2 separate regions of the Homo sapiens genome follow, and region 2 is linked to region 1. Evidence: fine-mapped expression QTL. A gene starts in region 1. The other region holds a variant in brackets. All regions are shown on one strand. Distances are between the middles of the regions. Region 1 holds the start of FKBP14-AS1 (FKBP14 antisense RNA 1). Region 2 has its middle 19 kb from the start of MTURN.

What was found. PIP is the estimated chance that this variant, and not a neighbour inherited with it, causes the effect.
Region 2: its variant is the best candidate, but not a certain one, in a credible set for the expression of FKBP14-AS1 in prefrontal cortex (BrainSeq, PIP 0.68).

Annotation. Positions count from the first base shown.
Region 1 is chr7:29,985,745-29,991,131 of GRCh38, reverse strand. FKBP14-AS1 (FKBP14 antisense RNA 1) reads right to left here and starts at 2,476. Exons shown (of 3, transcript NR_187577.1): 1 at 2,339-2,476. SCRN1 (secernin 1) reads left to right here and starts at 1,331. Exons shown (of 8, transcript NM_014766.5): 1 at 1,331-1,490. RefSeq lists silencers at 1,205-1,544, 1,565-1,614, 1,625-1,894, 1,985-2,104.
Region 2 is chr7:30,113,032-30,118,419 of GRCh38, reverse strand. It overlaps a transcript of PLEKHA8 not described here. Among named protein-coding and RNA genes, the nearest start is that of MTURN, 19 kb to the left of the region's middle. The variant A/G (reference allele first, on the strand shown) is at 2,657.

The DNA.
Region 1 (5,387 bases):
AAAAAGTCTCCTTCTCTCCCCAGCACCCAGTCTCCCAGTTCTGCTCCCTGGTGGCATCTATTACAGGTTCTTACGTACTCTTCCAAAGATACTCTGTGCATTTACAAAAATAAGTACAGACATACATATATATTTTCTTCCCACAAATAACACACACAACGTTCTGCACCTAGCTTTTTATTTTTCTTTAGTTAGTATAGGTTGGAAATAGTTTTGTATTAGCAAATAAAGATCATTCTCCTTTTTAAAGGAAGCTGGATAGTAGAGGCAGGCGGATTGCCTAAGCTCAGGAGTTTGAGACCGGCCTGGGCAACATGGTGAAACCCCATCTCTACTAAAAATCAAAAAAAATTAGCGAGGCTGGTGGCGTGGGTCTGTAGTCTCAGCCACTTGGGAGGCTGAGGCACGAGAATCGCTTGAACCCGGGAGGCGGGAGGCGGGAGGCGGGAGGCAGGAGGCGGAGTTTGCAGTGAGCCGAGATCCTGCCACTGCATTCCAGACTGGGCGACAAAGCAAGACTCAAAATGTTTTGATTTTTGTTAATCTGGCTGGTGGAAGATGCTACCCCACATATTTGATTTGCAGTTAAGTGAGCCTGAATATCTTTTCGTGTGCCAGGATAGAATTGCATTTATTTTCCTCTGAATTACGTCTTCATATCTTTTGAGATAGTCTTTTCTTATTTACTTATAAAAGATGGAGTTGACGCTGGCATCAACACACACACACACACACACACACAGACACACAACACACAAGTCCCTGTACATAACTTTATTAACCCAGATATGGAATCTTGGCTTAGTTACGTGCTGTGTGACCTTGGGCAAGTTACTTAACCTCTCTAGGCCACAATGTCCAAGTACCTGGGACAGGGTCTGGCTTACCAACATGGTACAGGACGGCACTTTTAAAACCAGGGACTCGACTTGGACGTGCGAGTCAACAAGGTACAGGACACATTTCTCTCCGGGGAAATCTTGTGTGGGCGCCGAGGCCCGGACGTAGCAACCAAACGTCGGGAAGAGGCGCCAAAAGGATGCTGGGCCTGGCTCCTTGAAGCCCGGGTTTTCCCTTTTGAGAGCCACAACCAAGAAATAAAAATCTAGCAAAGAGGGGGCCACTTTCTGCGGCGAGATACGCCCTCTCGGCCGCTCCTCCAGCTCCCAGGCCCCCTCCCTACTCGACGGTGAGCAGCGCCGCGGCCCGTGCAGCCAGACGCGCGGGGTGCGGCGGGGCCCCGGGGGCCGGGGTGGGGGAGGCGGAGGGTGGGCCCGCGGTCACGTGAGTCGGGCCAGCTGCTGCGGGGGGCGGCGGGCCCCAGCGCCGGGAGTCTGGGTAGGGGGAAGCGCCCGGCGGCCGCCTCCGCCACTGCAGCTGCAGCCCCCGAGGTCGCCGCAGTAATCCGGACCCGGCAGCACCCGCACCCTCGGCGGCCGCAGCCTCAGCACCGCAGAGCGGAGAGCGGAGCCCGGAGCCCGCCGCCCCAGGTGAGCCGCGTCTGGGAGCGCAGGGCGTTTGCAGCGCTGCTTTCCCGGCGGTTTCACCCCACCCGCCATCGCCACCTCCTGCGTTTCATCTCCTCCCGCTGTCCCTCCGAACCCGCGGGTAGCGTTACCCCAGGCCGATTCCCGGTGCTGGCCCGGGCGGGCTGGGAGCCTGGGGGCGGTCAGAGGAGAGGTGGCCTCGGCCTGAAGCCGGGGTGACTCGGCTCGGGGACTGCGGGGGTGCAGTGGAGGGATGCCGGCCCCGGGCTCCCGCACCGCAGCCGGGTTCCCCGCGCTGCTCTTCCTGGGTTTCCTTTTCCTGGCAGCCAACCTGCTGCCCACTGGGATGTGCCTGTGGGCCCCTGGCCTCGCCACCCTGGGGTCTGGGGCGAGCCGGGCACCTTCCCCGAGGTGCCGTACCTGCTGCGCGGGCGGGCGCCGCGAACATGGCTGCCCGGAGACGCCCGCCGCCTTCGGCCCGGCTCTGCCAGCGCGTCCAACTCGCCCGCGGCCGCCGCACCGTGTCCCGGAGCAGCCCTCCCCGCTAGGCCGACGCGCGCGGGCCGCCCCTGGGTTCTCCGCGGGCCGCGCGTGGGACTTGACACAACTTCCCTCGAGCCGCACCCGGGCGTTCTCCGCGGGGCGCCGGGCGGGGCTGCCGAGAGGCCGGCTTGGTCGGCCTCTGCCTCCTCGGCTCGCTCTTGAGGCGTCGAGTATTTGGCGACCTCACTCGCGAGGGCCGAGAGAAATGTGGTCTGCAAAGCAGGAGGGGCGCTTGAACTTTAGAGAATTGGCGAGAACTCGGATTTGGGAATAAAAATGTCCATGAAAACATCGAAGGAAACTGTTACCTGCTTTGACTCAAAGCTGACCTTGTAGGGTTCTGTTAAATAACGTGGCTTTTCTGGATTTTCTGTCTGATTCTAGCATGCAAGTCCTTGACTTACGCTTGCGTCCGGCAGCCGGGTGGGGTGGGTGCGTGCGTGTGTGTGTGCGCGTGTGCGCGTGTTGTGTTCCCAGCCTGGTTAGAAGATGCATCAGTTGCGGAGGAAACCTATGCTAATTCAAAATGGCAGCATGAAAAATAGGCCAGGCGGAAGCAGCACAGACCACAACCATCAGCTGCCCCCTGACTTAAGCCTCAGGGAGGGAATTAGTGTGAGTCAAGGCTCATCCGGGTATGGAGTAGAGAGTGATTCTTGGAGCTGGCTAGATTTTAGGGTGCTGCAGGGTCCTGGGAGTTGTTAAGTGGGAAGTTTGGAGAGCTGTAATTATTTTTCCTAACTTATCAAAAGATGATACAAAACCTAGTTAAAACTCTACGGTTTTGTATGATTTTCTCCAGGCTCAACTAAAGTTGACTCTGTGGCTGCTGATGTCTTTTTGATGCACAACCTGGAGGTCGTTTGATACCTACAAGCTCTTAAAAGAGATGTGTGCACATTGTAAACATCATCCAAGAGCAGTGCACATAACAAATACCAGGTTCTTAGATCAAGTTTCATTGGAAGAACTGATTTAGCGACACGAGGAAGCACCCAGGCATGAGGAAATGGGAAATTCTTGAAAGGTGACTCATTTTAGAATTTTTTTTTTTTAAACAGCCTTTCTTTCCCTTTTCACTTCCGTGCTGCCAGCCATCTTGTCTTTTGGGAAGGAGATACATGAGGAGGCAAATGCTTCAGGGATAATGGAATAGAGGAGGATGAGCTAAGGTCGGGGGGCAGAGGTGGAGGCAGTCTTAAGGAGCCTGCTGTCAACCCCCTTTTTACAGCAGGAAGGCTGAGGCCAGCGGGGCGAATGGACGCCAAGATCATATATCTGGCTGTCAACTGGCAGTGAGAACCCAAATCCAGGTCTCATAACTCCCCCGGGTTCCACATGCTACCTTTTAGAGCCTGGGGGAGAACAGCAAGTCTGTCATTATTAGGAAGGCAAACACTTCGAGCAATGGGAAGCCAAACTGTAATATGAATTACAAAGTCTATAGGTGTTTAAAGTCAATGACAACACCTTAATTTCCTAATTCAAGACTTTTAACTTCTTAAGCTGTATCTACCTCATGTTCACATTTTCCAGTGGTGAAACTGTTTCTATAGTTAAGAACCAAAAACATTATTTTAGTAAAGTCTTTGAGGCAAGAAGTACATTTTTTGATTAAAAATTGAGTTGCTTGTGTTTGTGGAGAACCATTAGGCCAGTTTATTTTGAAAAGGAACCAAAGTAGGCCATGCATTTCATTTTTTTCGACTGTTTCTAATTTTAAGTAAAAGTAAATAACAAGCCTATTGTAAACATAACTTTGAAGCAGTGAAGACAGGCTTTTCCTATGATTTGCATTTGACTTTTCTGAGTCATGAGTCAGTGACCTTAGATCTACTAAAGCAGAGCTAGAAATTGTGCATGGGTTAGTGTGAAGAGGTGGTGAAGATGTGGAAAACGTTTCTTCTGGGCATCTGAACCTTCACAGCCAGTGATGTGCAGAGGGAGAAGGTGGCAGGAGGCAGGGAACAGGGAGAATGTCTTGAGGCAGTGGAACAGATAGGAGCTAAATATGAATATATATATCGAAGTGAAGACAGATGCTGATGTGACATGTGCCATTTAGAAAACTAACTTGCAGCCGGGCGCGGTGGCTCACGCCTGTAATCCCAGCACTTTGGGAGGCCGAGGCGGGCGGATCACGAGGTCAGGAGATCGAGACCATCCTGGCTAACACGGTGAAACCCCGTCTCTACTAAAAATACAAAAAATTAGCCGGGCATGGTGGCACGCGCCTGTAGTCCCAGCTACTTGGGAGGCTGAGGCAGGAGAATCGCTTGAACCCGGGAGGCGGAGGTTGCAGTGAGGCGAGATGGTGCCACTGCACTCCAGCCTGGGCGACAGAGCGAGACTCCGTCTCAAAAAAAAAAAAAAAAAAAAAAAAATTAAAAAAATTAGAAAACTAACTTGCATTAGAGGATGAATGTGAAGATATGCCAAAGATATTTAAAATAGCAAGTTGTAAAAATACAGAAATGCATGCAATTTGTGTCTGTTGAAGAATAAGAATACAGATAAACAAAAGTTATTTTTTTTTAAATCCGTTTTCATTAGAGTCTAGATCTGTGCTGTTTCATCTGGTAGCCACCAGCCTCATGTGGCTATTGAGCACTTGAAATGCAGCTAGTTTGTATTGAGATATGCTGAGTGTAAAATATACACACAATTTCAAAAATTTAATATGAAGAAAGAATTTAAAATATCATTAATAATTTTATATTGATTTTATATTGAAGTAACATGTTGGATATATTGGGTAAAATATATTACTAAAAATAATTCCATGAGTTTCTCTTTACTTTTAAAAATGTGGCTACTAGAAAATATAAAATTGCAAATATGGTTCGCATCTGTCTTGCTCTCTCTCGAGACAGGGCCTCCCTCCGTCACCCAGGCTAGAGTGCAGTGGCACGATCTCGGCTCACTGCAACCTCTGCCTCCAGGGTTCAAGCGATTCTCCTGCCTCAACCTCCTGAGTAGCTGGGATTACAGGCGTGCGCCACCACAGCCCGGCTAACTTTTGTATTTTTAGTAGAGACAGGGTTTCACCATATTGGTCGGGCTGGTCTCGAACTCCTGACCTCAGGTGATCTGCCCGCCTCGGCCTCCCAAAGTGCTGGGATTACAGGCATGAGCCACCTCGCCCAGCCCTTGGATTATATTTCTAGTGGTTTTTAACAGGAACTGGAGGGTGGCTGAGCTCATAATGCTGTTTGTAGAACTGGGTATGTAAGGAGAAGTTAAAACAGAAACTGAAAAGGGGACAGGATGGACGGAAAAGGGACTACAAGAAGTGAGTGACCAGGGAAACTGTAAAGGGAGAGAAGGAGTATGTGGTGGGCTGGGACTGCTGAGTAT
Region 2 (5,388 bases), 130 kb before region 1:
AGTTATTATAAAGCCCCTCATGTTGCTTCTCGTAGTTTGGTGGGCAAGATTTTCACAGGCCACAAACTCAAATAGGCAAGCAATTGAGCTTTATTTTCTTGTAATATAATTTAATTTCTCTTTTGAGACCTCATTCTATCTGATGGCAGAAAAACAATCAAATAAGTTCCAGATAGACTCAGTCATTTCAGGGTTTTCTCAGGCATTTTAGATCTCACTTAACTCAGGATACTCTCACATACTTCCTTCTCTCCAGGAGGCATCTCGGGGCTTGCTGGGCATCCTGGCCCAGGAGAGGCATTTAGTCCAGGCTGATCCCCTGGAGAGAGGCGTCACCCAGATGTGATGCATCCTGTCTCATGCTGGGTCATCATGTCCTGCAGGCCACTCTGCACCCGCCTGATTCTGAGTGACAGCCCTCCTGGGCCACCATCAGACATTTGTGTGTCCCTGTTAGAAATGAATCCACGTCTCAGTTTTTAAATTTTTTAAAAAATAAAAATATGAATAAAGTCTTGGCAATCTTTAATCTACAGGAAGTAGAGTTGTGTAGTTATACTTCTGTTTCTAATATCTTGTTGGCAACATAAGCTTTGTGCCTTCATTTTTTTAGTGTGCACACTAAACTTTTGAAACTTAAAATTATTTTTCTCATAAATTCTGGCAGTTGTAAATCAAAACTGTTGTTTTTTAAAGATTTTAATTTTTTTCTGGAGGGGGGTCTTGCTCTGTCACACAGGCTGGATGGAGTACAGTGGCATGATCATGGCTCACTGCAGCCTTGAACTCCTGGGCTCAAGTGACCCTCTCGCCTCAGCCTCCTGAGTATCTGGGACTACAGGTGTGTGCCAACATGCCTGGCTAATTTTTTTATTTTAGTGGAGATAAGGTCTCACTATGTTGCCCAGGCTGGTCTCAAATTCCTGAGCTAAAGCAATCCTCCCACCTCAGCCTCCCCAAGTGCTAGGCTTACAGGCAGGAACCATCGTGCCTGGCCCTAAATTTAATTTTTAATAAATTACATTTTAAGGCTATTATTTCTACTACAAATTTTAAGAAACTAACTTGGAACTAATTTAAGTCTCAAGAACCTAACTTGGAACTCAAATTCATTTGGCCAAGACATTGTATAGTGCTAACTTAAGTGGGAAGGGCCATGGGGTAACTTCTAGGAAATGCACACACACATATAATTTCATTGTATGGCATGAGTTTGAATCGATTTCTCAATTACTGTGAGCTGAGAACCCCAGTCTCCCAAAAATGCTTTCTATCCTTGACCCTGCCTGCCTCTCACAATTTCCAGGCTGTCTCCTTAATAACGTTCAATCTGCCTTCCACAGTCATTACGTCAACTGGGCACAGATGCTGGAAGGCAGACGGAAAGGCGGTGACAAAGTTAGACCTACATTTGCAAGACCAAGTGAAACACACACCCACTCTCCTGAAGCCAAACTGCTTTTGGAAGGCGGGCAGGGGAGTGCCATTCCCTCTAGCATACTTGTCATTCCCAGCCTAGGTTTCAGATCCTTTTTATACACTGGCCTGTGGAGAGACTTGCTGCTAAATTCTGTTATTTCACAGCCCATCTCTAGCAACTGTGTTGGGGAACGACTTCAGACATTCCAGGTTTTGCTCAGAGAGCAATTTTCAACAAGAAAGCCAGAATGGGGGAGTAGCTAAGATTTAGTTGCAGCAAATTGGAGACCGGAAATATAAAGTTATTCAGAACAGTCAATGAAAATCATTTATATGGGAGAGAAACAACATGATCTTGCTTTAAATGTAAGGCATCTATCAGCGGCACAATGTTAATTAGGATTCTAGGGCTCTTAGTGCAGCTATTCCCTTTTTTATTTCTAGGTTGCTAGGTGCAGAAGAGTAGATTTGCAGAACAGCTAATCAAATATATGCAAGAAGATGCCCCTCATTTATCCTTAAGCTTCTAAGGCAGAAGTTTTTCTTCAGTTGTTTGTTCTTTAATGAATTTTAATGATGTAAGAAAAATACAATACACTATTAGGTGAAAAATCGCACATGTAAACAGATATTCACACATGAATCAAGTTATATAGTACATATATACATACACACATATGTGTATGTATATATGTATACATGTATGAATACATACATGTATACATACATACATGTATGCATGTATACGTGTACATGTATACGCATACATGTATACGTATATACATATGTATACATGTATACGTGTATGTATGCGTATGTATACATATGTATACACATGTATACGTGTATGTATGCGTATGTATACATATGTATACACATGTATACGTGTATGTATGCGTATGTATACGTATGTATGCGTATGTATACATGTATACGTATGCATACGTATGTATGCGTATGCGCACATGTATGTATACGTATGTATGCGTATGTATGCGTATGTATGCGTATGCATACATGCATGCATGCACATGTATGCATGCATGTATGCGTATGTGTGCATGTATACATGTATGTACACGCACGCATGCATGTATACATGCATGTATACGCATGTATGCGTGCCTACATGTATGTGCACGTATGTATGCATACGTGTATACATGTATGTGCACGCATGTATACATGCATGCGTGTATACATGTATGTGCACGTATGTATGCATGCATACGTGTAT[A/G]CATGTATGTGCACGTATGTATACATGTATACGTGTATGCATGCATGCGCGTATGTATACATGTATACGTGTATGCATGTATGTGCGTATGTATACACGTATACATGTATGTGTACATGTGTGCATGTATGTGTACATGTATGTGTGCATGTATAAATGTATGTATACATGTCTACATGTATACGTGCATGTATACATATGTCTACATGTATACGTGCATGTGTACATATGTCTACATGTATACGTGTATGTGTACATATGTATACATATGTCTACATACACGTATACATGTGTGTATACATATGCATACATATATACATGTATATATGTATATCTAAACACATATAATACAAAAAGGAGAAAACATTTAAAACATGGCCATTTTTAGGTAGTGGTACAATGAGTAGTTTGCATTTTCCTCCTAACACTTCTATGGATGTCCCCAATTTTTAAATCAGGCTTACCAAGAGAAAATAATTAACATCATACTTTTTTTAAAGGGTGGAATGAGACTCCTAACTTTCTTAAAAGAAGATGTGGGGAAACAGTCTGAAAACTCTCCTGCCATACTGCCTTAAAATGCTTGACAAAATACAGCAAAAATTATTTTAAATGCATGAATGAACTGGCAACAGAGAAAGGAAGTCTCCAGGTGTGTCAGTAACAAAGAGAGAAGTGAGTGGTAAGGATGTGGGATGCTGCCACAGCTGGGCTTAGTTAAAAAACTGCAGCAGTTTTTAAAAGGCTACACCCACACTGAAAAGAGTAGATTAGGAGAACCATCGATGCACTGGCACGGAGAGACAAAAAAGAATTTATATGCCTCTGTCTGGATGGGGAAAAATGTCCTCTGAGAAATGAATTCTCAGGGTCTTTTTCTACCTCAAATTTGGAGGTTCAAATTTGCAGATGGTCCAGGAACCATGATGATAAATGACTCCCAAAATGATAAACAGCCAAAAAAGAGTTCCACATCTGGTGATCTTTCTGTGGCAAATGCAAAACTGCTCTTGAGGGACACATTTACAACCCAGGCCACGGGGATTCTCACAGAAAAACAGCCTTCTTTAAAGATAAGCTCACAAACACAAATAATGAAATGCAGGAGGACAAAATCCTGCTGACTTAAAAGTCAGCAGACACAATAAATAGCACTAAAAGATACCCTAAAACTTCATATAATAGAATGACAATTGGAAAGGGAATGTAAAATAAACATGCTTAAAATTATTAAAGCCCTAAAAGATGTAATTAAAACACCAAGAACGGAACAAACCTCATGAGAGGCACTGTTGCACGGTAGCTAAGAGCGCAGAAACTGAAGCTAAAGTGCTGGGTTCAAATCTCGTCACTATCACCTACCACCACCTGGGTGACCTTGGGTGTGTCACTTAATATTTCTGTGCCTCAAGTCCCTCATCTGTAAAGTAGGTATACTAATGGTATCTATATCAATGGGTTATTGTAAGGATTAAGTGTGTTAATATATGTAAAGTGATTAGAAGAGTACACATATGCTTGGCACAGAGTAAGTTTTAGCTACTATTGTAACAAAAAAAAGAAAAGTAGGGCAGGTGTGTCTCACTCCTGTAATCCCAGCACTTTGGGGGACTGAGGTGGGCAGATAACATGAGGTCAGGAGTTCAAGACCAGCCTGGCCAACATGGCAAAACCCTGTCTCTATTAAAAATACAAAAATTAGCCAGTCATGGTGGTGTGCACCTGTAATCTCAGCTACTGGGGAGGGTGAGGCAGGATAATCACTTGAACCTGGGAGGCAGAGGTTGCAGTGAGCTGAGATTGTGCCCCTGCATTCCAGCCTGGGCATTGGTGAGACTCTGTCTCAAAAAAAAAAAAAAAAAGTAATATTTTGAACAGAAACAAATTAGAATGTGTAGAAATGAGAACTAGCTACTAAAAGTTTGTAAGCTGAAAAGAAGTTGAAGGGAGAATTAGTAAATTAGAAGTCCCATCTGAGGAAATTGTGCTAAGTGCAGCAATATGATGAAGTGATGGAAAATGTTAAAAGGAGGTTATGAGGCCTAAGGAATGAGATAGTCCAATATGTATTTAATAGAAATTCCAGAAACAGTAATAGGGAGAATAGTGAGGTGGTAGTATTCAAAGAGATAATAACATAGACTCTACTAGAATTGTAAGGAAAGAATCTGCAGAATAAAAGCATGCACTGAGACCAAAGATAAGAAATGAAAATAAATCTACACTACACATAATAGGGAAACTGCAGACCACAAAACAAAGTGAAGATCCTAAATGCCACCAGAGGTAAAAAGGACAGACTACCTATAAAGAAGCAAAAAATAAGTTGACAGCACAGTACTCAATAGTCAGAGGCCAAGAGACAACAGAAAAAATATCTTCAAAATATAGAGGGAAAATAACTGATAAGCTAGAATTTTATAACTAGCTAAACTATAATTCAAAAGTCAGGCAGAAAAAAGACATTTTTAGGCAAAGACTGAGTTTACCATTCATAGGCCCTTCCAGAAAATGTTACTATGGGAACATTTTACTTCCAGAAGGAGCAAATCAAAACCAGAAGAAAGATGCAGAAAGCAAGAACTAATGATCTCCAAAGAAATAGCAAATGTGGGTAAACCAGAGCAACCACTGACTGTAGAAAACACCACTCCTACTGCTAATAGTAATGATGATGATGATGAATTTGAGGGACATAAGGAGGCACAAAACTATCAGAAGACAAAAACATG